Regions from separate parts of the Homo sapiens genome. Here all the other regions are reported to be linked to region 2. Evidence: microRNA targets listed by miRTarBase, many of them from high-throughput screens and not tested one by one. Region 2 holds a microRNA gene; each other region holds the end of a gene's coding sequence.
The links. The annotated mature microRNA hsa-miR-548ab reads AAAAGUAAUUGUGGAUUUUGCU and lies in region 2 at 2,534-2,555, shown strand. An mRNA with a match to its seed (bases 2 to 7 or 8) in the 3' UTR can be bound and repressed. Matches are read on the target gene's strand: a 7mer-m8 pairs with bases 2 to 8, a 7mer-A1 pairs with bases 2 to 7 and ends in A, and an 8mer does both.

Region 1 (8,348 bases), not on the chromosome of region 2:
CAACATCCTCTTAGTGCTCACTGAACCTTCTTCCGCTAGGACAAGTGTGCTTTTTTAAAAAATACACTTCTAAAACAACCAGTGATGTTGCTACAAAATACCTTACAAAATGCCTTTTAAGTAAAAAGACATAGGAAGGAACTGATTCTCAGAAATTGGTAGGAATGTCCAATCTTTTGGCTTCCCTAGGCCACAGTGAAGTATAATTATCTTGGGCCACACATAAAACACACTAACACTAACGATAGCTGATGAGCTAAAAAAAAGAAAAAAAACTCGCAAAACAATCTCATAATGCTTTAAGAAAATTTACCAATTTGTGTTGGGCCGTATTCAAAGCTGTCCTGGACCACATGCAGCCCATGTGTGCAGGCTGGACAAGCTTGAATAGAGTCTTTTTTATCTATTAAAAAAAAAAAAAAAAAAAAAAAGAACAAGTGCTTTTATCTTTATCCTTTAGGGTTAATATGTAGTTTGGGTTTTTCTACATTTCTGGCAAGGGCACATGATTTTTCACCATTCCTTTTTTTTTTTTTTTTTTTTTTTTGAGACGCAGTATCGCTTGTTGCCCAGGCTGCAGTACAATGGCATGATCTTGGCTCAGTGCAACCTCCACCTCCTGGGTTCGAGCGATTCTCCTGTCTTCAGCCTCCCAAGTAGCTGGGATTACAGGCACGCGCCACCACACCCGGCTAATTTTTGGATTTTTAGTAGAGACGGGGTTTCACCATGTTGGCCAGGCTTCTCTTGAATTCCTGACCTTAGGTGATCCACCTGCCTCAGCCTCCCAAAAAGCTGGGATTACAGGCCTGAGCCACTGTGCCTCGCTCACCATTCCTTTCTAATTAGAATGAGTTTGCATGTCTTGTATATGTAATTCAGAGGTTGGTAAAAGTGTGCAACACAGTGACAATGATGCAAAGTCAGTCTGTGATTTAAAATTTTTTCAAAAAAGAAGACAAAAGGAAATAAAAAATTGTAAATTCACAAAGTGGATCATCAAAGGTTGATACACCGAGGTCAAGCAACATAAGAAGTAATTATTCTGAATCAAAGAACTAGTGGAAATGTAAAAGATAGTAACAATTTTAATATTTGAGTTCTTATGTTCTAAGTACTGTTCTAAATACTGTATTTGTATTACACTTCAATTAATCTTCCCTCAAATCCTTCCTATGAAGTAGACTTTTCCTTTACAGGTCAGGAAAGTGAGGCATAGAGTGGTTAAGCAACTTGTCTAAGCTATGAGGCCCATGACTCAAACGCAGGCAGGCCAACTCCAGAGCCAAAACAAAAAAAGACACATTAAGCAGGTTTTGAGGTTTATTAAAGTAAAGAATTAGCAAACAATATGCAAAAACAAAGTTCTTAAGAGTTATGGCTTTCAAAAGCACAATATAGTAAAACCTAATACATTTTCATAAGTATCAAAATAACAGAATTGAAGCATGTTGCTAGAATTTCAGCTTCTACAACATAAACAGAAGCACAACAAATACAAATAAGCAGCAGACCTACAGTGCAGCCACTAGCTTGGTCTTCATTATCTGTATATGAAATATCTTTTTAAGAAAATGTGGGCAGGTAGATACAAACATTCTATTTCCATGATTACAATCCTCTTCGATTTTAAAATAAGTGAATTTCAAAATACAACTTACGCCAACCATATTTAAAAAAAAAATCACTTGCCTAACCATTATCTTCTAGAGTTCCTATAGTTAAAATACTTTATGAATAAATCAATGCAACATCATCTTCAATGATATTAGAAGGGAAAATCTGACCCTAAAAGATTTTTTTTTTTTTTCCACAAAGAACTTGGGATTCTTTGGCCTTACTGGAGTTTTGTTATAGCTAACACCAGTCTGTATTAATTAAGAAGGCACTATTAATGAGGGACGGAAAAATCTACCTGTACACAAAATTCTGTACTTTAACAGCATCTTCAAATAAACCTTTAAAGGATAATGGTTTACGATCATTTTAAGAATTTTAAGAACTGAGTTATTTGGACAAGAACCATACAAACCTTTTTCACTCTGCCATGAATGATCGAAGAATCCTGCTCTAGGACTGGATCTTTTCAGAGAAAATAACTTATCACCTGTTTTACTGCAGTTGCTACTAGCAATTATTATATAGCATGTGCTCTTCAAAACAGAAATAAAAATTGATGTGTGAAATCCCTTTCATTGGTTTTGGTAAACCATCCAATTTTGGGCTGTCATTTCAATTATAATACAGTTGTATTTTAAGAGAGAAGATAATCCAATATAACAAAGGCTTGATAAATATTGTCACTCTGTAATCAGGACATACTAAACTGTAATTCAGCGAATTCCAAAGAACTTTCCAGGTTTCTGTCCAGCAGGTAGAATTCTTTGTTTATGCAGAAGAAATGCCTTCAATTCTCACATTCGATTCAGGCATCTTGTGTGATAAGAAAAGCTCCTAAGAATCTTACTTATATCAATGAGAAAAATGCTGCTGCTCTGGGAGACCTGAGATTACTCCCCAAAAAGCTGCCCTAATAATATCTGATACCACCTATAAACCACCACTTAGGAAAACTCTCTCCATAAAAATCACCAAACACTTCTAAAACCACCAGGCTACCTACTACCCTAAGATACTTGCTCATCTAGCTGAACAATATAACGATGACACACATTTATATTCATACCCAAGAGATTAGGTGAGGATTTAACTAGTAAGACAAAGAAGGGATCTGACATTCTTTAAAGTTAAAATGTAAGTCCAAAATATAAGTCATCACAAAAGGCTGAACTCAGTAATTATCAAAAAATTCTTCCTTCCTCATGAAGTAAAAAGGATATTTATATATTTTAAGTGGCAAAGGTGATAATCATCCAAAGTACTATTAAGCAATTGATTAGAAAAAGTATAAAGAAATAGATCTAAATTGGTACATCAGATGTTCTCTATCACAGAAGTACAGCACTTTGATAGGTACTATCAAACTTTTTAGAGTTTCTCTGCTGTTGGAAGAATTTCATTTTTTGTATAAACATTCTCTTCCAACAAAATACTACCACACAGGGGAAGGAACTGTTCCCCACAGGTACCCTCAGGTAATATGGAAGGTTTTTAACATGAACCCCAGTTCTAATCTTGACAACAGATTTCAGGTATGAGTACTTAATAATCACTTCACATCCTGAAGGATATCTTACTCTCAAATGTTATGAAAGGTATAAAATAGCTACATCCTCTATCTGTGCCATTAGATGTGGCTTGTTGAACTGTCTAGTACTCTTACTCTGGATTTCACCTCAGAAACCCAACCAATTCTATTATTTTTTTTATATAGCAACAATACAATGTGAAAAATTATTTATATTCTGACACACATATTTGACATTTTGATTGACGTCTTCCTTAAATCTCCTCTTAAAAAGAGGGTTAGTTTTAGCAGATCAATAACACGCCTACTAGTTTACATTTCACGTCAGCCAGGCAATACTGACCAGACCAATACTGACCAGACCATAAATATTATGTAGAAATGTTAAGCAAATGAATCTCTTATATCTTGCTTTTTGCCAATCAATATCTTTTTGTTGCTTTAATTCATTACTGAGATTTCATTCTATTCTGCTGTTTGCATTACCAAACTGGTTGCAATTTTATTATTCCCAGATTCTGTCTTTTCAGCCAGCATAAATATATTGTACATGCTATGTGATTATTCTAGTGGTGCTAGAATTTTACTATAAAACATTCTGTAGATTAAATTAAAACATATAACCATAATTTGCTAAAATGGTTTCTTTCAGAGGTACTTTCCTTTCACTAGCCAGTTTTTAAAAATCTTACTAGCAAATTTTATCTCCTATACATAGATATATGAAAATCCTTAGGGACTGTAAGAATAGCTGGACTGAATAAAATTTTCATTTAAAGTCCAAGGGTGGGGAGTTGACAACTTTTAGGAGATACAACAGGCTTATAGTTCTCTGTCAAACTCTTAGTTGTTAATAGCTTTAGTACTGTCATTCATGAGACACAACTCCTAAGAGAAAACAAAGAAAAGGCCAATCACGTAAGATCTTGTTAACTCAAGACTGTGACATAATGACCCCAAATAAAAACAATTTTTAATTAACTCACAGTAGAAAACACCAATAAAACAACTCTCTAATTTCCACTAGTTTACTGCAGCCCAATGAAGTTGATTACATACATCAGTCATTCAATTGGAGTAATTTTTTCCTACAAATTTGTTCCAGAGATCATGCCATAAGCCTGGTTAAGTAAAAGAATGATGAAAATGCCAAAGTTCTATCAAGTAAGCAAATATTCTCTTTCGTGTGGCAGACAGAACTCTGGAAGAAACAGAATGCATGTCATGTAATACTTACATTTAAGGCTCAGGTGACTGTCAGAAAGTATTTCTTTTACCCAGCAAAGAACTGTGAGCTGAAACACAAATGGCAGTTCATCTGAAAGAACTAAAACCATCCACTGGCTGCACATTGAAAAAGCAATAAATAATGACACAGAAAACAAAAGAAATTGCATAATTCTTTCCTCGAAAATGCTTTTTTTTTTCTTCACAAGAGCAGAAAGGACAAAGTGGAAAGTCAAACCAAACTAACATTTTAAACAGAAGAATGATATGACTCCATATACTTTCAAAAGGCACCAGAAAATAAAGCTTTCACTGATAGGTAAATTAGGTCATTTTTTTTTTCCAAAATAATTTCTTCATTCTCATGTCATAATTAAGTGTCCATTTGACAGCTCCTGAGAAAAAAACTGGTTCAAAGTTCTTTATCCAAAGCCAAAAACATGATTGATTAAATGGATATTTTGGAGTTCGTTCATGTCTTTTCTCTCTAAAGATTGTGTTTTGGGAGACTAGCTTCCACATAAGTACTTAAAAAATGGAAAAAGAGGATCATCGATAAATGAGAGAAGAGTCTATATTCGTTGATGGGTGAGTGTTTTGTTTTGTTTTGTTTTTTGAGGCAGAGTCTCGCTCTGTCGCCCAGGCTGGAGTGCAGTGGTGCGATCTCGGCTCACCACAACCTCCGCCTCCCAGGTTCAAGTGATTCTTCTGCCTCAGCTTCCCGAGTAGCTGGGACTTCAGGCACGCACCACCATGCCCAGCTAATTTTTGTATTTTTTGTAGAGACAGGGTTTCACCATATTGGCCAGGCTGGTCTCAAACTCCTGACATCATGATCTGCCTGCCTCAGCCTCCCAAAGTGCTGGGATTACAGGTGTGAGCCACTGTGCCCAGCCGAGTGTTTTAAAATCAGCTATCCCTACATCCACTGCTGATTCATTTAGTATCAAATCAGTAGCCTTATCCTTGGGGCCCAACTGAAGAGCCTCCTACGGCTCCAGTGCATAGGTCCTTGCGTAGGGAGGCTGATACAAGTAAGCTGACACTTGTAAGAGCAATGGGATTAACTACATGATTCTCCAGCACTGATAACACCCATAAAACTGTAGGGAATTAAAAAGGCACCTTAAGTTGGAGCTATAGAATAACAGTCTTATAACCTAGGTTGAAAGTAAAACAAAAACCAGAAAAAAGCATAACTTCCTACAAATGTAATCTATAAATTGCAGTGTTTGTTAATACAAAAAAGGTACCAAGGACGTAAGGATAAGCATCTAAGTCCAAGTCACTTGAGTGTATTTTATCAAAGGTTATGCTAAAAACTGTCACCCATAAAAGTGCAAAATAAAAGATTAATGCATGTCAAAAATAGAGTTCTTGCAACATTGTCCAAAAGCAGCAAACATAGTTGAACAAGGCTGTGCATGCACTGTCACTAGCTATAAAGTAATGCTTATGACAGATTTTGAGTAAATGACATATACTTGAGATCAGTTATTTGCAAAAATTTTTTTAAAAAAGGAAATGTCTTACAAAAGATATATAGCATGAAGTCACATTACACTGAAGAACACTTATCTGTATTAAATGTAAATTTTATGTCATCTAGAAAACTATCATTTTGCTTTTACTGAACACTACCAGTTACAGCAGTGCATAGTGTTCATTCAAATAAAACTTTATAGTTTCTTTTAAGCCCCTACCATACACTTTTGCAAAACAATGAATTGTACTTTTTTTTTTTAAGTTGGTGGGACAAAGAAACTGGTAAAAGTACAGCTTCTGGAAGATCGAGAGTAGGAGGGAAAACTTACTCTTCACTGTATATGCCCTCTTATAAGCTACTATAATTTTTCATCATGTGATGCATTTTCAAATAAATTTAATAAAAAATTGTTAGGGCAATAAAGTAAAAGCATGTTCCAGTTTAAGATCAATGCCAAATTTCTGAACTGGGGCATAATACTTACTCTGCATCTTTTACAACACTTCTAAGAGTTAATCACATGAACATGAATACAAACAAATGTAGATTCATCACAAAATACAAATGTATTGGTCACAATTATGTAGAAAAAAATAAGCTGTAATATCTGTTTTCAATGTAAGCTCACAGTATCTGTACTCAAAGTTTCTCTAAAATTAAAACAAGTCCACTAACAATATAATTGAAAAGAATACTTCTGCATTATGAAACAGAAGATATGGGGTTCAGAGGGGAGCCCATCTGAGTAAGGACTTTATCCAGCCACTGAAGAGGCCCATGAAGATGAATCTCAATCCAACATGGGGTGCTGGTTACATCCTGCCGGTGATATTCTGCTCCCCAACCCTATGAAAATGAACAGATATCATCACAAATCCCTCTTTAAACTGTCAACCACTCTAAACCAATTTTACCATAAGAAAAAGATAGCTTTTAACAGTAGAGATATGTAGAAGTTACATAAAGAGAATAACTATCACAAAACCAGTCTTAGTATTCACCATGAAATTAAAAGACAACAGCTACATTATTTAAAGATTCATGAATTCTAAAATAATATATAATTCCCTTAAAAGAAACCCTTAGAGCCAGTTATAGTTCATAATTTTTTTTAATCTTAGAAAGGTAACACAGTACAGTATCTCATAATTAAAACAAATATTTCTGATCTGAGATACATTCTCCCTTAATGGGATAAATGCAAAATAGAAAATCACCACTAGAACACCACAGTAATAATTACTGTAGACAAGATATATTGAAGAATGCAAAAATTGTGGGTAAAATATAAAGGAGAAACAGTGTATTTACATAGCCCCAAAGAATCTGCCTGCAAATATTTATAAATACCATTTTCTCTTAATTTCTTTGTAAGACTTAATGACTATTTAAAGGAAAAATTTTAACTGTATTATAAGATATAATGTGCAGATGTAAAATTTATGAATAGCACAAAGAATAAAAGAAGGTAATTAAAACTCTTCAACAGCAAGGTTTTCATATTTTACATTCTAAAAATAGTACAATATTAACTCTAGGTAGATTGGGGTATGTTAAAGATAACGTGGTAATTCCTGGAGAAACCACTAAAAAATGTAAAGAGATGTCACTTAAATACTAATAAAGGAATCATATATAAAAAATCAAAATCAAAATCATAAATAGCCTCATGTAAGATCATGTCACATGTCAGAGTTTCTTTTTTTTTTTTTTTTTTTTTTTTTTGTGAGACAGAGTTTCTCTCTTGTTGCCCAGGCTGGAATGCAATGGCGCAATCTTGGCTAACTGCAACCTCCGCCTCCCAGGTTCAAACAATTCTCCTGTCTCAGCCTCCCTAGTAGCTGGGATTACAGGCACCCACCACCATGCCCGGCTAATTTTTGTATTTTTTAGTAGAGACAGGGTTTCACCATGTTGGCTAGGCTGGTCTCGAACTCCTGATCTCAGGTGATCCACCTGCCTTGGCCTCCCAAAGTGCTGGGATTACAGGTGTGAGCCACCTCACCCGGCCCAGGTTTTTTTTTTTAACGAAAAATTTTTTATTTTCAAGTTGTTTGAATATCAGATAAGGCATTGTAGATATTGATCAATACATGCATGTATAATTTAATGTGGCAGTCACATAGTGATTATCCTTTAAGGTTGGAAATTACTGGGATGAACTGAGCTGAAATCTTTAGCCTAAAACTGCAGATAAAAATTGAAATAGAAATTTTTCACTTTTATTTTCCTGGATTTATCAGGTTCTCTGGTTTACTGCTTATGGTAGTCTTGGCCCAGGAAAACTGGGTTGGGGAGGGAGGGCGGTCAGGGGAGTGAAGAACATTGGGGAGTGGAGATTAAAATAAATATGCAAAAGTCACATTACTGTACAAGAAGGCAGAAATACCTTCAGGGTAACCAGTAAACTGATGTATACAATAGATCTACAGCAAAGTATCATGAAAACACTGGACTGGGGCTGAATACCAAAAAGAAAAAAACCCA
Region 2 (8,348 bases):
CTCATAAACAGCCATGGATAATACATAATGGATGAGCATGGCTATGTACCAATAAAACTGTATTTATGCACGTTTAAATTTGAATTTCATATAATTTTCATGTCAGAAAATATCCTTTTGCCTTTTTTAACTATTTAAAAATGTAAAAAAAAATAGTCTTAGCTCACAGACTATAAAAAACATGTGGCAGGCTGACCGTATTCTGGTGACCCCTGGTAAAAAGATCTCATCTATTTCAGCCTGTAGTGCGACAGTGTTTTAGACAATCCTTGCTCCAGAGCTCCTCACCAAGTTCTCTGATTATTTGTTTGGCCTTTGATGCACTTTCACTCCTCCCTCTACTCAACCTGCTTTCGTCCCTTCTGCTTACTGATGTTGATCCCTTACCAACGTTTTGCATTAAAAACTCAGTCTCAGCATCTGCTTCTCTAGGACCTAACAAGAGACATATAAAAATTGATATCATTCGGTATTTTCTCCTCTAAAGATGATATTAAGTTTCATTTTTCATTGCCATCATTGAATCAGAGAGAAATTAAAGAGGGTCAGAATAAGTCTCCCTCTACCCACAGAGAGATCAGCTATGTGTATATAGAAGTCTAGAGGAAAAGGGGAAATATATGTGATAGAAAAAGAAGCCACTGGTAAGCTAACTGAATGTTTTAGTCTGATATTTACTTGCCTCAATATAGTCTGTTCATATTCATTTTGAATTTTTCTTGTAGGACTCTCAAATAGTTGACTCCATTTTCTACCAGACTGCCTTTTATTTTTTAACCTCTACCAATCACCTACTTCCAGTCACCTTTTATTAGACTAAGCAATCTCAGTTACTACTGCTAGCTATAGATAGTTTATTTTCCATATATAAAACCTCTTTCCCTTTTCATTATCCTCATTTATACAGTTAGGTCCCCATCCTATCCCTGACATGTTTCTTCCATCTCAACTTTGCCATCACATTGAGGCACTTCTTGGTCTCTCCACATGTTGCCTATCAAAACTTATCTGCTGTAACCCCGATTCCAAGTGAGTTCTTGCTCTTGGTTATCAACCACTTGGAAAGTATTCAGTATGTTTTAATCATGTATTAAATGTGGATGGTGCTTTTATATTTTTCTACTTCCTCATATTAGCATTTAATACTTTATTCCATAGGAAAGAATTCCCCCTAATAGAATGTCTGGTTATTTGACACCTACAAAGCAGGCAAATTTTGAGCATGGAAAGCTACCTGGTGACCCTCAGTCAAACCATGTGGAGATTTGCCAACAGGAAAGATTAGCCTGGCAGCACACAGTACCGAGTCATAAACTATTTGACTCTAAAACCTGGATATGGCAATGATTGTATCAGTAGCCATAAATCAGGCAATTATCTGAAAGTGGGGAGAAATATGGGGTTCACTTTCAGCACCCCAAAATCATTTCACTTTAACAAGGAAACACACATTTTAATTCATTATTACTTTCATACTTCTTTTCTTTATTCATTGATTCTGAAGAATAACTAGAAATAATTTCCAAACTGTTGTTTACCTTTTCCACCACTCTTTGTAATCAAATTTGCATTTGTCCTTTGCTTTGTGGACAAACAAATGATTAAACATGTTTTCAATTATTCTTCGGTGTGCCATTAGCCTACCTCTTTTTTCCTTTTATTCCATTTGGTAAATAAAATAAAAATATTTAATATATGTGCTGATATATTTACCTTTGCATTAGATTTTCCCCTTTGTTTTTGAAAGAAGTCCCCTTCTTCAGGTAAATAATATCAAATAGAGTAAATTTGATCAACATTGTTGCAGGAATCCATTTTTCACAGTCAATTAGAGAAGCAGAAAAGGAGGAGCACCACCCTTCTTTCTCTTCCATATCTATTATTTCCAACTGGCCAGGCAAATTGATAGTGCATGTGAAGATGGCTGTGGAATCATGGCAAGCTTGTAACTGTGATATGGTCTATGAAATTCTGCCTGCATACCTATACAACTCCAAGCAATGTTTACAAATTCACACTACTCCTCTAGTAGGACATTTTGAGAGGAAAAATACTTTTTATGAAGAAAATTTAGGGTTTTAATAATATTTCTTTTGATTAAAGTATAATACCAATTTAGTACCCAAATTATTGAAAACATGGTTAAGTTCAAAGAAGATAAATGAAATATCCAAAACCCCATAATAAAATTGAAGCTTTATGTGTGCATATATGTGTATACTTGTGTGTATTTGTGCACTCATGTTTACTTGTATTTACATACATAAACTATGAGAATCACTCATGGTGTTCATTTCTCAAATTAACACATAGTCTACTGTGAGAAATTGAATCAATTAACTTATTTGTGTATTATATCTTGGAAGCCCAATTGGATATTCTAAATACTGGGCAATTAGAAATGGAATGAGCCGATATATTGGGTGGGTGAATTCTTTATACTAGTTTTGTTTGCTGTAGATCTCTATTTATTTATTTATTTATTTACAATAACATGTCTATAATCTGTTTTTTCCATCCATTATGTTGGTGCAAAAGTAATTGTGGATTTTGCTATTACTTGTATTTATTTGTAATGCAAAACCCGCAATTAGTTTTGCACCAACCTAATAGAAAGCATGTTCCATTGGGGCTAGGTCAGCAGTGTATTGGCTCACCACCTCTTCCTCAGATTACCTGATATAAATCAGGTGTTCAGTGACTATCTGTGGGTAGAGGTAGATATATGATTGCAGATTACAATTAGCCTTTCACTGTGCCAGGGTCTGATACAGGCATTGCAGAGCCTCATGTTTACACAACTGAGGACTCTCTTTTTTTTTTAAACAAATATTAAGACATTAATACAAACTTGCAAGACATCTTCCAGAGTCTCAGAAGAAGCCTTGGCTAGGGAGGTGCCCCCAAAGCTTAAGCTTTATTATTTCTTTGGAAAATTCACCTCTGCTTTCACTATATTTGATATATTAGTTTTAAATATTTTTGTCTTCACACATTCTGTCCTGGTCCATTTTTTTCTCTTTGTCTGCATTTTCTAGCTATATAGATACAATGTTCTATTGGATCTTCTTGTTTGTGAATGAAGAGATTTTATTTAATAAAAAGACATTTGGACATTTGATTTGGTTCTTCCCATGGTGTCTTCTTATGAATTGCTGTATGTTTTCATATATCTGATAATTACATTCTGTTTTCTCATACTTATACAAGGAATTCTACACTCACACAGCATTAGAAATTAAGATAAAATGTGTAAAATTCTGTTGTTTCCTGTCCTGAGTATTTAACCCCCATATGAAGAATGGAAACGGTTAGATAAGCCAGGGTTGCTTTGCCAGGACCCTGTGCTCATTAGCTCTCTGCATCACTAAGACATCTTGGAAGCAATGCTTTCTACCTGACGGTGCTATCCTCATCCCATGCTTTCTATCTGAGGGCGCTATCCTCATCCCATGCTTTCTACCTGACGGTGCTATCCTCATCCCATGCTTTCTATCTGACGGCGCTATCCTCATCCTATGCTTTCTACCTGACGGCACTATCCTCATCCCATGCTTTCTACCTGACATTGCTATCCTGTCAAGGGGTAATGAAGTTCATGACAATTTTTATTTGTTTTTGTTTTGTAGAGAACTACCATCCAACAGAAATACAATGTGAGTCCCAAAATAGAGCCACACATGTAATTTTAAAAAGTTACTTAAAAAAGTAAGAGAAAACAAATAAAATTAATTTTAGTAATATATTTTAACCCTGAATATATGAAATGATACTATCTGAAAATATATTTTATTGTCACATAATAATTATACATATTTATATGGTATACATGTAATGTTTCAATATGTATATACACATAATCATTAAATCATGATAATTAGCACACACATCACCATAGATATTTATCTTTTTATTGTAAGAATATTCAGAATTCTCTCTTCTACTTATTTGAAATACACTATGCATTATTGTTATTGTCACCATACTATGCAAGAGTACCAGAAATTATTCCTTCTATCTCACTGTAACATTGTACCTATTGACCAACCTCCTCTAATCTCCCCTTACCCCACTCTCCTCAGCTCTAGAAACCACTGTTCTACTCTCAACTTCAATGAGATGAAGATTTTTTATTCCAAATACGGGTGAGATAATGAGGTGTTTGTCTTTCTGTGCCTAGCTTATTTCACTTAACATAATATCCTGCAGGTTCATCCAAGTTGTGTCAAATGACATTTCATCCTTTTCATGGCTGAATAGTAGTCCCTTGTGTGTATACATACCACATTTTCTTTTTTAAAAAAATAATTTCAACTTTTATTTTAGATTCAGGGGGTATATGTGAAGGCCTGTCACATTAGGACACTGTGTGATGCTTAGGTTTGATGTACAAATGACACTGACACCCAGTGAGCACACCCAATAGGCAGTCCTTTCAGGCCTCACCCCATTTTTCTTTCCTTATTCCACTAGTCCCCATTGTCCATTGCTTCCATCTTTATGTCCATGTGTACTGAGTGTTTGGTTCCCATGTATAAGTGAGAAATGCAGTATTTGGTTTTCTGTTCCTGTGTTAATTGCCTAGGATTCTAGCCTGCAACTGCATCTATATTGGTGTGAAGGACATGATTTCATTCTTGTTTATGGCTAGGTAGTATTCCATGTGTACATGTGTCATATTTTCTTTTTCCAGTCAACCTTTCATGGGTGCCTAGGTTGATTCAATGTCTTTGCTATTGTGAGTAGTGCTGCAATGAACATATACATGTCATAACATGCCTTTTAGGCAGAACGATTTATTTTCCTTTGGGTTTATACCCAGTAATGAAATTGTCATGTAAAATAGTAGTTCTGCTTTAAGATTTTTGAGAAATCTCCAAACTGTTTTCCACAGTGGTTGAATTAATTTACATCACCACGAACAGTGTGTAAGCATGTCATTTTTTTCCACAGCCTCTCCAACATCTGTTATTATTACTTTTTTTTACTTTTTAGCAATAGCCATTCTGACTGGTATGAGATGATATCTCATTGTGGTTTTGATTGACATTTCTCTTATGGCGAACTTTTTTTTTTCATATGTGTGTTAGTCACTTGTATGTCTTTTTTGAGAAGTGCCTGTTCATGTCCTTTGCCCGTTTTAAAATGTTTTGTTGTTATTGTTTGTTTGGGTTTTGCTTGCTGATGTGTTTAAGTTCTTTATTGATTCTGGATATTAGACATTTGTCAGATACATAGTTTGTGAATATTTTCTCCCATTCTATATGTTGTCAGTTTACACTGTTAACAATTTCTTTTTCTGTGCAAAACCTCTTTCGTTTAATTAGGTCTTACTTGCCAACTTTTACTTCTGTTGGAATTACTTCTGAGGACTTAGCAATAAATTCTTTGCCTAAGCTATCTAGAATGGTATTTCCTAGGTTTTCTTCTAGGATTTATGTAGTTTGAGGTCTTATATTTAAATATCTAATCTATCATGAGTTAATTTTTGTCTATGGTAAAAATGGGGTGGGGGGGATTCAGTTTCATTCTTCTGCATATGGCTAGCCAGTTCTTCCAGCACTGTTTATTGAATAAGTGGTCCTTTCCCTGTTGTTACTTTTTGTTTACTTTTTTCAAGAATCAGTTGGTGGTAGGTGTGCAGTTTTATTTCTGGGTTCTCTATTCTGTTCCATTGGTTTGTGTGTCTGTTTTAGTACTACTACCATACTGTTAGAGTTACCATAGCCTTATAATGTAGTTTGGAATTGGGTAATGTCATGCCTTTGAAACAGTTCTGAACCTATAAATTGCTTTAGGAACTTTGGCAATTTTAATAATATTGTGTCTTCATTCCATGAGTATAAAATGTTTTCTCATTTATTTGTGTCATCTCTGATTTCTTTTAGCAGTGTTTTATAGTTCTCCTTGTAGAGATCTTTCACCTTTTTTGCTAAATGTATTCCTTAGTATTTTATTGTTTGTGGCTATTGTAAATAAGTTTTCATTCTAGATTTGGCTCTCAGCTTCAACCCTGTTGGAGTATAGAAATTTTTGTACATTAAATTTGAATCTTGAAACTTTACTGAAATTGTTATGGGTTCTAAAAGGCTTTTAGTTGAGTCCCCAGTATTTTTAGGTATGCAAGCATATCTTCTGCAAAAAGAGATAGTTTTTCTTCTGTATTTATTTGAATGCCTTTTTTTTTCTTTTTCTCGTCTGATTGCTCTGGCTAAGACTTCTAATACTATGTTGAACAGGAGTGGTGAGAATAAACATCCCTTATTTTGTTCCTGTTCTTAATAGGAATGCTTCCATCTTTTGCCTATTGAGTAGATGTTGGCTGCAGATTTGTCATAAATGACTCTTGTTATTTTGAGGTATATTCCTTCAATACCTAGATTGTTGAGAGTTTTTATCATGAAGAGATAAAAGATGTCAAAGAGATAAGAGATGTTGGAGTTTATCAAAAACCCTTTTGCTTCCATTGAGATGATCATAGGATTTTTGGATTTAATTCTATTTATAGGGTGAATCACATTTATTGATTTGTATATGTTGAAGCAAACTTGCATCTCAGGGATAAAGTCTACTTGATCATGATAAATTAACCTTGAATATTCTGCCAGATTAGGTTTGCTAGTATTTTGTTGAGGGTTTTTTCATATATGTCAAGGATATTGGCCTGTAGTTTTTTTATTGTTGTATCTTTGCCAGGTTTTTGGCATCAGGGTAATGCTGGCTTCATAGAATGACTTAGAAAGGAGTCCTTCCTTGATTTATTTTTTTTGGGGGGTGGGGGAGCAGAATGTCTTCAGTAGAATTGGTACCAGCTTTTCTTTGTATGCCTTGTAGAATTCAGTTGTACAGTCATCTAGTCTAGGGTTTTTTCTTGATTGGTAGGTTTTTTATTAATGATTAAATTACAGAATCTATTCAGAGTTTCAATTTCTTCTTGATTCAATTTTGGGAGCTTGTGCGTTTCCAGCAATGTATCCATTTCCTCTAGATTTTCTAGTCTGTGTGCCTAGAGGTGTTCATTATAGTCACTGAGGACCTTTTGTATTTCTGTGAGATCAGTGGCAATGTCACCTTTGTCATTTCTGATTGTGCTTATTTGTATCTACTCTCTTTGTTTCTTTGTTAACCTAGCTAGCCGTTTATTGATCTTGTTTGTCTATTTAAAGAAGCAACTTTTGTTTAAATTGATCTTTTGTAAGAGTTTGGGGTCTCAATTTCATTCAGTTTTACTCTGATTTTAATTAATTCTTTTTTTATACTAGCTTTGGGGTTATTTTGTTCTTGTTTTTCTAGTTCCTGTAGTTGTGATTTTAGTTCATTAAATGAAATCTTTCTAACTTTTCAATGCAGGCATTTAATGCTATAAACTTTCTTTTAACACTGCTATTGCTACATGTCGTAGATTTTGGCAGCTGTGTCTTTGTTTTCATTTATTTTAAATAATATTTTTTAATTTCTGCCTTAACTCTGTTGTTTACCCAAAAGTAAGGCAGGAGCAAGTTGTATAATTTGCATGAACTTGTACCATTTTGAGTGATCTTCTTGGAATTGCTTTCTATTTTCTATTGGTTCGAGAGTATGGTTGGTATGATTTCCTTTTTTTTTTAATTTATAAAGCCTTGTTTTATGGCTAAGAATGTAGTTGAGCTTAGAGTATGTACTGTGTGCACATGAGAAGAATGTATATTCTGTGGTAAATGGGTGGAGTATCCTGTAGATGTTTATTAGATTCCACTGGGCAAGTTTACAATTGAAGTCTAGAATTTCTTTTTAAGTTTTCTGCCTCAAAGATTTGTCTAATGCTGTCAGTGGGGTGTTGAAGTCCCCTATTATTATTGTGTTGCTATCTACAGTTTTTTATAAGTCTATAAGTACTTGTTTAATGACTCTGGGTCCTTTGATGTTTGGTGCATATGTATTTAGGTTAGTGAAGACTTCTTGTTGAATTGATCTTTTTATCATCAGGTAAAATGTCTTTTTTTCCCCTTTTTACTATTTCTTTTTGGTTCAAAGTTTGTTTTATTTGTTATAATAATAGTGGTTGCTGCTTTTTTTTGTTTTCTGTTTGCATGATGTATCTTTCTTCAATTATTTACCTTGTGTCTATCGGTGTCATTACATGTGAGATGGGTCTCTTGAACACAGCAGATGGATGGGTCTTTTTTGTATTATACAACTTGCCACTGTGAGACTTTTAAATGGGGCATTTAGATCACTTACATTTGAGATTAATATTGATATATGAGGTTTTGATCCCATTATAAAGTTGTTAGCAGGTTGCATTGTAGTTTCTGTTGTGTATTTGCTTTATAGGGTCTGTGGGCTATGTGCTTAAATGTGTTTCTGTG
Region 3 (8,348 bases), not on the chromosome of region 2:
CCATCTGCAGCTGTTGCTCCTGCCTGTCGCGGTGGTGCGGGCTCCGCTGCCCTCCCCGGCTGCGCTCCGGTCCAGCCCTCGCTTCTCGGGGTCGGCGAGCCGGAGCTCCTGCGCGCGCTTCGTTCTTATACGAACGTCGGGCTCACTCATTTATGTCCTAGAAAAGTTGTGTGGACGACTGCTTTAATTTTCATTTTTAGCACTCTAAAGTTTGGGAAGTAATTAAGAACCACCTCAAAATCTGCAGTTTTTTGTTCTTGTTTCTTATAGGCTGAAGGGGATGCTAAGGGAGATAAAGCAAAGGTGAAGGACGAAGTAAGTCATTCTCTCTTCAAGGGTCAAAGCCTTGGACTAGCAGAGGCCACTGGACTCGGTGATTAACCGTAACCTGTGTCCTGAATTTACACTCCTATAATCTAGAGCAAATTGATACCAAACTTTCAAAGCGACTTACCTGTCCTATTTCTAACTTTCTCGTTGTCTTTAATAGCCACAGAGAAGATCCGCGAGGTTGTCTGCTGTAAGTGTATGCTTTTGAATTTTCGTGCTTGTCCCTGAAACTAAAAAACATCAAAAAACAATTCCCTTTGCTTCCATGAATTATGGTTAGTGCCTGGTTTTGAATCATTGCCTCTACTTGGGACTCTTGCCCCTTTGGGTTTTGCTGGTTCTGAAATTCTGATGCCTGTAGCCAAAGTGGGACATTTGAGTGGGCTTCTGGAAATCCAACATTCTAGAAGAAAGCCAACCACAAAAACTTTTGAGGAGGAGGAGAAACTTCTCTACCCTTGGTACTTTTGGTTGGTTGTGGGTGGTTTTCTTCAGTCCATTGTACTGATGTTCACTTTTTCCTCTCTTCCTGCCAAAAAAAGAAACCTGCTCCTCCAAAGCCAGAGCCCAAGCCTAAAAAGGCCCCTGCAAAGGTAAGTGCTAACATTGGAACTGATCATTTTCACAGAATGAGGACTGTCCTTAGTGCCTTAACTTAATTAGCATAATGGTGCCTCCATTAATGGAGGTTATAAACTGTGTGGATAGCTTACCTCGTCCGTGTCATTCATAACGTTGGTTTCCTGATCAAGAATTCTGTTGTTAGTTTATAGGAAAATCTGCATTTAAATATTAAATACCCCAGGGTTTAAACTAATTTATTCTTCTGTTACTTAGGAAATTCTAAGTACTAAAGATTATAGCAAATTACAGATAATTTAGCCTAGTTTTGATCAGTTGTTCTTGTCAAATGGGTGAGGGTTTGTGTTTTATCTTGAGTAAACAATCCTACCTTGTGCAGAACTTTGCAGACCATACCTTGGTAATACGAAATGGGGAGAAACAGTTCTATTTTTTCCCCTTTTTCAGAAGGGAGAGAAGGTACCCAAAGGGAAAAAGGGAAAAGCTGATGCTGGCAAGGAGGGGAATAACCCTGCAGAAAATGGAGATGCCAAAACAGACCAGGTATAACTGCTGTTTCACCCTTTGTTAGATTTGTTCATTCAGTTAGTTGCTGATATCAAAAATTTAATTGCCCTTTTCTTGTATCACTCCAAATGTACCATTTGGTCCAGTGTGCTTGTGGCTTTCCTGTTAACTTAAATCCTGGATTCTTGAAATCTCTACTGTCAGCTGAAGGGCATTGTGTTTTATACTACATGAAGTTTTCAAGCTAGGAGTAACCTCAGGTCTCTTATTCTGGTGTTCTTCCTACCTCAATTTTACAGTGAGGCCCAGAGGAGAGGTGACTTAGCAAAGTTACCTAGTAAGTCATTCTCAGAAGAAATACTGAGTCTCAGTACCTGAAACCTGAACTTTGGCCTGGGAGCAAAGTGATGCTGTAGGTGGAATGTGAACACAGATAGTTTTGAAATCTACGCATTGCATTAATTTGTCTGTTTTCTTTTAGGCACAGAAAGCTGAAGGTGCTGGAGATGCCAAGTGAAGTGTGTGCATTTTTGATAACTGTGTACTTCTGGTGACTGTACAGTTTGAAATACTATTTTTTATCAAGTTTTATAAAAATGCAGAATTTTGTTTTACTTTTTTTTTTTTTTTAAAAGCTATGTTGTTAGCACACAGAACACTTCATTGTTGTTTTTGGGGGAAGGGGCATATGTCACTAATAGAATGTCTCCAAAGCTGGATTGATGTGGAGAAAACACCTTTCCCTTCTAGTTTTGAGAGACTTCCTCTTGGCTCCCAGGAGGAGGGATTCCCTGACTTTGACACACATGGCCACCTTGGCACAAAAGCCTTGTGGTATAGAAAAACAAATTTGTTTTTATGTCCTCTTCTCCCTTTCCATCGTTCAGCATAGACTTAACTCCCTTAAGCCCAGACATCTGTTGAGACCTGACCCCTAGTCATTGGTTACCAGTGTGTCAGGCAATCTGGACTTTCCAGTGATGCCACTGAGATGGCACCTGTCAAAAGAGCAGTGGTTCCATTTCTAGATTGTGGATCTTCAGATAAATTCTGCCATTTTCATTTCACTTCCTGAAAGTCAGGGTCGGCTTGTGAAAAGTTGTTAAACAACATGCTAAATGTGAAATGTCAACCCTCACTCTAAACTTTCCCTGTTCAGAGCATCAGATGAAGACTTCATTGGGTTTTATAGTGGCTTTCTGATTTTTGGTAGTCCATTGAAGAAGGGAGTTTGAAAGTTGTTGTATACTGTTAACGATTGTCTGCCCATGTCCTGCCTGAAATACCATGATTGTTTATGGAAAGTATCTTTAATAAAGCTGGATACAGTTTGGCTTGGAATGCTGCCTCTGATCTTTTCCCACAAGTGGGGTAACCTGGTTTATCCAAGTCTCTTGGAACAGGGTACGTTCTGCTTTGAGGTACTCCATGTACAGTCTAATGATGATCTTTCACTGATTTATAGTCAGCTTCCAAAACACACAGTGCTAGGTGCAGTTAGGAAGGATTCCAGGAGTAGACTTAGCTGATGGTGAAAGGCTGGGAGTATGGAGTGATTTCTGTACTTGGTTATGCAGCATTCCCTGCAGTGTTTGTTTTTTGCATGACTCCGAATACATGAAGTGTATTAAATGCAGATTTTTGGTAGATCTGCGGTTTTGGCTGGGTAGCTGACAGGAGCCTCTCTACTTCCATCTGCATTTGCAACTTCTATAAAATTAGCAAATTAATAGACTCATGTCAGAGAGTGTCTCTGTGAATGTGTACACAGTTGTCCATTTGTAAGGTAGATGACACTTTGCTCCTAAGTAGACCTGCAAACAAAGACAATGGGGTCTTTCCTGATTCCTTTAGTTTGGAGATGCAGAGAACCCCACGTTTCTCTAAGTGAAATGGCAAGAAGTTATTTGTTAGAATATGGAACTGGTAACAAATTCATGTTTGCACCTTGAATTTGCTTTCACAGACCTGGCTGTATTGTTGGACAGGAATAAAGTAAATTGGAGACTAATTGCTTTGTCCATTCCCTTAGTCAAAAAAGTATCGCTGTTAAGTTCTTGAGGTTTTTTGTGTATTATCTCTCAAGTGTTGAGATGTTTGTGTAATATATGTATCACACTCATGGATGAGGAATCAGGCACAGATGAAACTTGTTGAAGGTTATGTGTACATTTAATGAGCAGCAGAGTCAGGATTCAGACCCTCAACTAGACAAAAGTCATCTCTGACAGACTTTTATTCAGGATAAAATACCATTTGTCCATTTAGCCAGTTACCAGCCATTTACTTTCATTATTGCTGAAGTCATTCATTCTAGGTTGTAGACGGGTAATTTTTATTCTAAAAGCGGTGTCCTCTTCCAGAGGAAACTTAAGAGACATCTTAGAATGGTCAGGGGTAGTGGGCTGGTATTTGAGCAGAGGTTGCAGAATTTGAGAAAGTTACAGCTGAGGTTCTTTGTTAGTGGCAAGTCTGCTAAGCCCTGGGCTATGCTAACAGCTCTGCCTCATGCTCTTTAATCTTTGAGTCAGACCTATGAGATACAGGTGTAGCCCCATTTTGTAGTCGAGAGTGAGGCTCAGATGTGAAGCGACTGGCTGAGGTTAAACTTGATAGTCTGTTTTTACTTATTTTCTGGCCCTCTTCTTGTTGCCATATAATTAGGATGAGTAGGGTAAGCTTGAACTTTTTCGAGTTTTTTTCTTTTTTTCCTTCCTGGAAAATACTGATTTGACTGGCTCTGGACCATGAAAGTAGCTGGGCCTAAAACCAAACCAGACATCAAAACGTGGTAAGGACCATTCACTAAGACAGCCATGGTAGCATGCTCAGTGCCAGCCCTGTCTCCAGGCCCATTCTTAAGATCTCGGGAAAAGTCACCAGATGCTTGGGCTCTAAGTAAAAAAAAAAAAAAAGTAACATAAATGGCACAAACTAGAGGATTCATCTGATACAAGTCCCGAGGTCGGGCAGTTGTGAGGACCCAGGTGGGCTTCCTGTCTTTCTGCTCTGCCGCCCTCAACATGTTCTCCAGCCACCTCACCTTCAAGGCAGTTGCTCCAGACATCGTAATTTGCCATACCAATGGCAAGAGGCTGGAGGACTGCTCCTTTTTTCCCTGCATTTAAGAAGAATGAAATATTTCCTACAAGCACCCCAGCAGCCTGTGTTTCACTGGGCAGATCTGGATTGCCTCTCCACTCCTAAACCAATCATAGCAAGAGGAATGAAACCACAGAATCTGCCTAGACCAGTCAGAATTGTTGGAATTCAATAGAGGAGGGATGATGATAGAGGAAAATGGCTGTTGTGTGGACAGCCTGCTGCACGGTCTCTTCAGGCCTGGCCTGATTCATTGCAGCAGTTAACACTGCTGAGAATTACCCCTCCCCTTCTTTAAATTGAGAAATAATCATATACCATTAAAAGTCACCACTTTGGGGGGAGGGATAGCATTAGGAGATATACGTAATGCTAAATGACGAGTTAATGGGTGCAGCACACCAACATGGCACATGTATACGTATGTAACCTGCACGTTGTGCACATGTACCCTAAAACTTAAAGTATAATAATAATAAAATTTAAAAAATAAATATACTTAACGCTCTTGGGGAAAAAAAAAGTCACCACTATATCATTATTTTAAGAGATGGAGTCTTGTGTTGCCCAGCCTGGTATTCAACTCCTGGGCACAAAGCAGTCCTCCCACCCTGGCCTACCAAAGTGCTGGCCACCACACCCAGCCAAAATTCACAATTTTAAAGCATATACTACAGTGGTTTTAGTACATTCACAACATTGTGCAACTATTGCCACTATCTAATTCTGGAATATATACGTGTGTGTGTGTGTATATATATATATATAAATATATGTGTATATATATATAAATATATGTGTATATATATATAAATATATGTGTATATATATATATATATATATATATATATATATATATATATTTTTTTTTTTTTTGAGATGGGGGTGTCTCACTGTGTCACCCAGGCTGGATTGCAGTGGTATGATCTCAGCTTATTGCTCACCGCAGCATCTACCTCCCAGGCTCAAGCTCCCACCTCAGCCTCCCAAATAGCTAGGACTACAGGCACACACCATGCCTGGCTAATTTTTTGTGTTTTTGGTAGAGACAGGGTTTTGCCATGTTGCCCAGGCTAGAGTCTTGAACTCCTGACCTCAAGTGATCTGCCCACCTTGGCCTCCCAAAGTTCTGGGATTATAGGCATGAACTACCCTGCCCAGCCTCTGAATATTTTCATCACCCCCAAAAAGCTCCATGCCCATTAGCAGTTAACTCCCCATTTCTTCCTCCCCCATCCCTAGACAATCACTAATTACTTTCTGTCTCTCTAGACCTTTTCTGGATATTTCATCTAAATGGAATCAATCTGTGTTTTTTCACGACTGGTTTCTTTCACTTAGCATGTTTTCAAGGTTCATCCGTATCATATGTATTTGATAACTTGTACTGCCAAATAACATTCCATTGTATGGATATATCACATTGGATAAGTCACATTTTATTTACTCATCAGTTGATGTACATTTGGGTGATTTCCACTTTGGGACTATTGTGAATAATGCTGCTACAAATATCATATAGAAGTTTTTGTAGGCATATGTTTTTAGCTCATTTGGGCACATACCTAGGAATGAAATTGCTGGGTCATATGGTAACTCGTACTTTTTTCTTTCTTTCTTTCTTTTTTTGAGACGGAACTTCGCTCTCGTTGCCCAGGCTGGAGTGCAGTCACATGATCTCGGCTCACTGCAACCTCCTCCTCCCAGGTTCAAGCAATTATTCTGCCTCAGCCTCCCAAGTAGCTGGGATTACAGGCATGTGCCACCATGCATGGCTAATTTTTTGTATTTTTAGTAGAGACGGGGTTTCTCCATGTTGGTCAGGCTGGTCTTGAACTCCCGACCTCAGGTGATCACCTGCCTTGGCCTCCCAAAGTACTGGGGTTACAGGTGTGAGCCACCTTGCCCGGCCTTTTCTTTCTTTTTAAGACAGTATTGCTTTTGTCACCCAGGCTGGAGTGCAGTGGCGTGATCTCAGCTCACTGCAGCCTCCCCCTCCTGGGCGATTCTGCTGCCTCAGCCTCCCGAGTAGCTGGGATTACGTGTGCCCACCACCACACCCGGCTAATTGTTTGTATTTTTAGTAGAGACAGGGTTTCATCATGTTGGCCAGACTGGCCTCAAATTCCTGACCTCAGGTGATCTGCCCACCTTGGCCTCCCAAAGTGCTGGGGTTACAAGTGTGAGCCACCATGCCTGGCCTCATTTATTTATTTATTATTTTTTATTTTTTGAGACAGAGTCTTGCTCTGTCTCCCAGGCTGGAGTGCAGTGGTGCAATCTCTGGTCACTGCAACCTCTGCCTCCTGGATTCAAGTGATTCTCCTGCCTCAGCCTCCCGAGTAGCTGGGACTACAGGTGCCCGCCACCACACCTGGCTAATTTTTGTATTTTTAGTAGAGACAGGGTTTCACCATATTGGCCAGGCTGGTCTGGAACTCCTGACCTTGTCGTTGTGATCCGCCTGCCTTGGCCTCCCAAAGTGCTAGGATTACAGGCATGAGTGGGAGCCACCGTACTGGCTTTTTTTTTTTTTTTTTTTTTTTTTGAGACAGTCTTGCTCTCTCGCCCAGGCTGGAGTGCAATGGCGCGATCTCAGCTCACTGCAACCTCCGCCTCCCGGGTTCAAGTGATTCTCCTGCCTCAGCCTCCTGAGTAGCTGGGATTACACGCACCCAACATCATGCCCAGCTAATTTTTGTATTTTTATAGAGAGGGGTTTCACCATGTTGGCCACCAGGCTGGTCTTGAACTCCTGACCTCAGGTGATCTGCCCACCTCAGTATCCCAAAGTGCTGGGATTACAGGTGTGAGCCACTGTGCCCAGCCTGTGCATCTTTTTTTAAAGAAGTGTCTATTCACATCCTTTGCCAAGTTATAATTAGGGAGTGTGTGTGTGTGTTTAACATGCTTCTCAGGAAAGTATTCTTTGTGGGTTGTTTTTATTGTTGAAGTGTAAGAGTTCTTTTCTCTTACTTTTCTTTCTTTTTTTTTTTTTTTTTAGAGTGAGTCTTGCTCTGTCACCCAGGCTGGAGTGCAGTGGCATGATCTCAGCTCACTGCATCCTCTGCCTCCTGGGTTCAAGCAGTTCTCCCTGTCTCAGCCTCCAGAGTAGCCGGGATTACAGATGACCACAACTGTGCCCGGCTAATTTTTTTCTATTTTTAGTAGAGACGGGGATTCACCATATTGGCCAGGCTGGTCTCGAACTCCTGACCTCAGGTGATCCGCCTGCCTCGGCCTTCCAAAATGCTGGGATTACAGGCATGAGCCACCTTTTCTATTCTTTCTTTTCTTTTATTTTCAGACGGTCTCGCTGTGTCCCCCAAGCTAGAGTGCAATGGTGCAATCTCGGCTCACTGCAACCTCTGCCTCTCAGGCTCAAGAGATTCTTATGCCTCAGCCTCCCAAGTAGCTGGGATTACAGGCAATGCACAACCACGCCTGGCTAATTTTTGTATTTTTAGTAGAGACAGGGTTTTGCAATGTTGGCCAGGCTGATCTTGAACTTCTGACCTCAGATGATCCGCCCACCTCAGCCTCCCAAAGTACTGTGATTACAGGCGTGAGCCCCTGCCCCTGGCCTCAGAGTTCTTTATGTATATATATGTGTGTGTGTGTGTAGTTTTTGGTTTTTGATTTTTGAGACAGGATCTAACTGTGTCTCCCAGGCTGGAGTGTAGTTGTGCAAACACAGCTCACTGCAGTGTTGATCTGGGCTCAAACAATCCCCCCTTGTAGCCAGGACTACAGGCGCACACAGCACCATGTCCAGCTAGTTTTTTGTTTGGGCGGGGTTTTTGAGGCAGAATCTCAACTCCGTCCCC

Region 1: miRTarBase lists SMAD5 as a target of hsa-miR-548ab. Seed matches in the 3' UTR shown: 8mer at 6,281-6,288, 8mer at 5,818-5,825, 7mer-m8 at 5,544-5,550 and 8mer at 1,328-1,335.
Region 3: miRTarBase lists HMGN2 as a target of hsa-miR-548ab. Seed matches in the 3' UTR shown: 7mer-m8 at 2,031-2,037.

Annotation. Positions count from the first base shown.
Region 1 is chr5:136,175,696-136,184,043 of GRCh38, reverse strand. It overlaps SMAD5 (SMAD family member 5), which reads right to left. Exons shown (of 8, transcript NM_005903.7): 8 at 1,311-6,707. The coding sequence ends at 6,564. Among named protein-coding and RNA genes, the nearest start is that of SMIM32, 13 kb to the left of the region's middle.
Region 2 is chr3:103,518,292-103,526,639 of GRCh38, reverse strand. MIR548AB (microRNA 548ab) reads left to right here and starts at 2,524; the gene lies at 2,524-2,607.
Region 3 is chr1:26,473,213-26,481,560 of GRCh38, forward strand. It overlaps HMGN2 (high mobility group nucleosomal binding domain 2), which reads left to right. Exons shown (of 6, transcript NM_005517.4): 2 at 271-315; 3 at 491-520; 4 at 873-923; 5 at 1,360-1,455; 6 at 1,901-3,430. The coding sequence ends at 1,936. Among named protein-coding and RNA genes, the nearest start is that of HMGN2, 4.9 kb to the left of the region's middle. RefSeq lists a silencer at 5,732-5,932.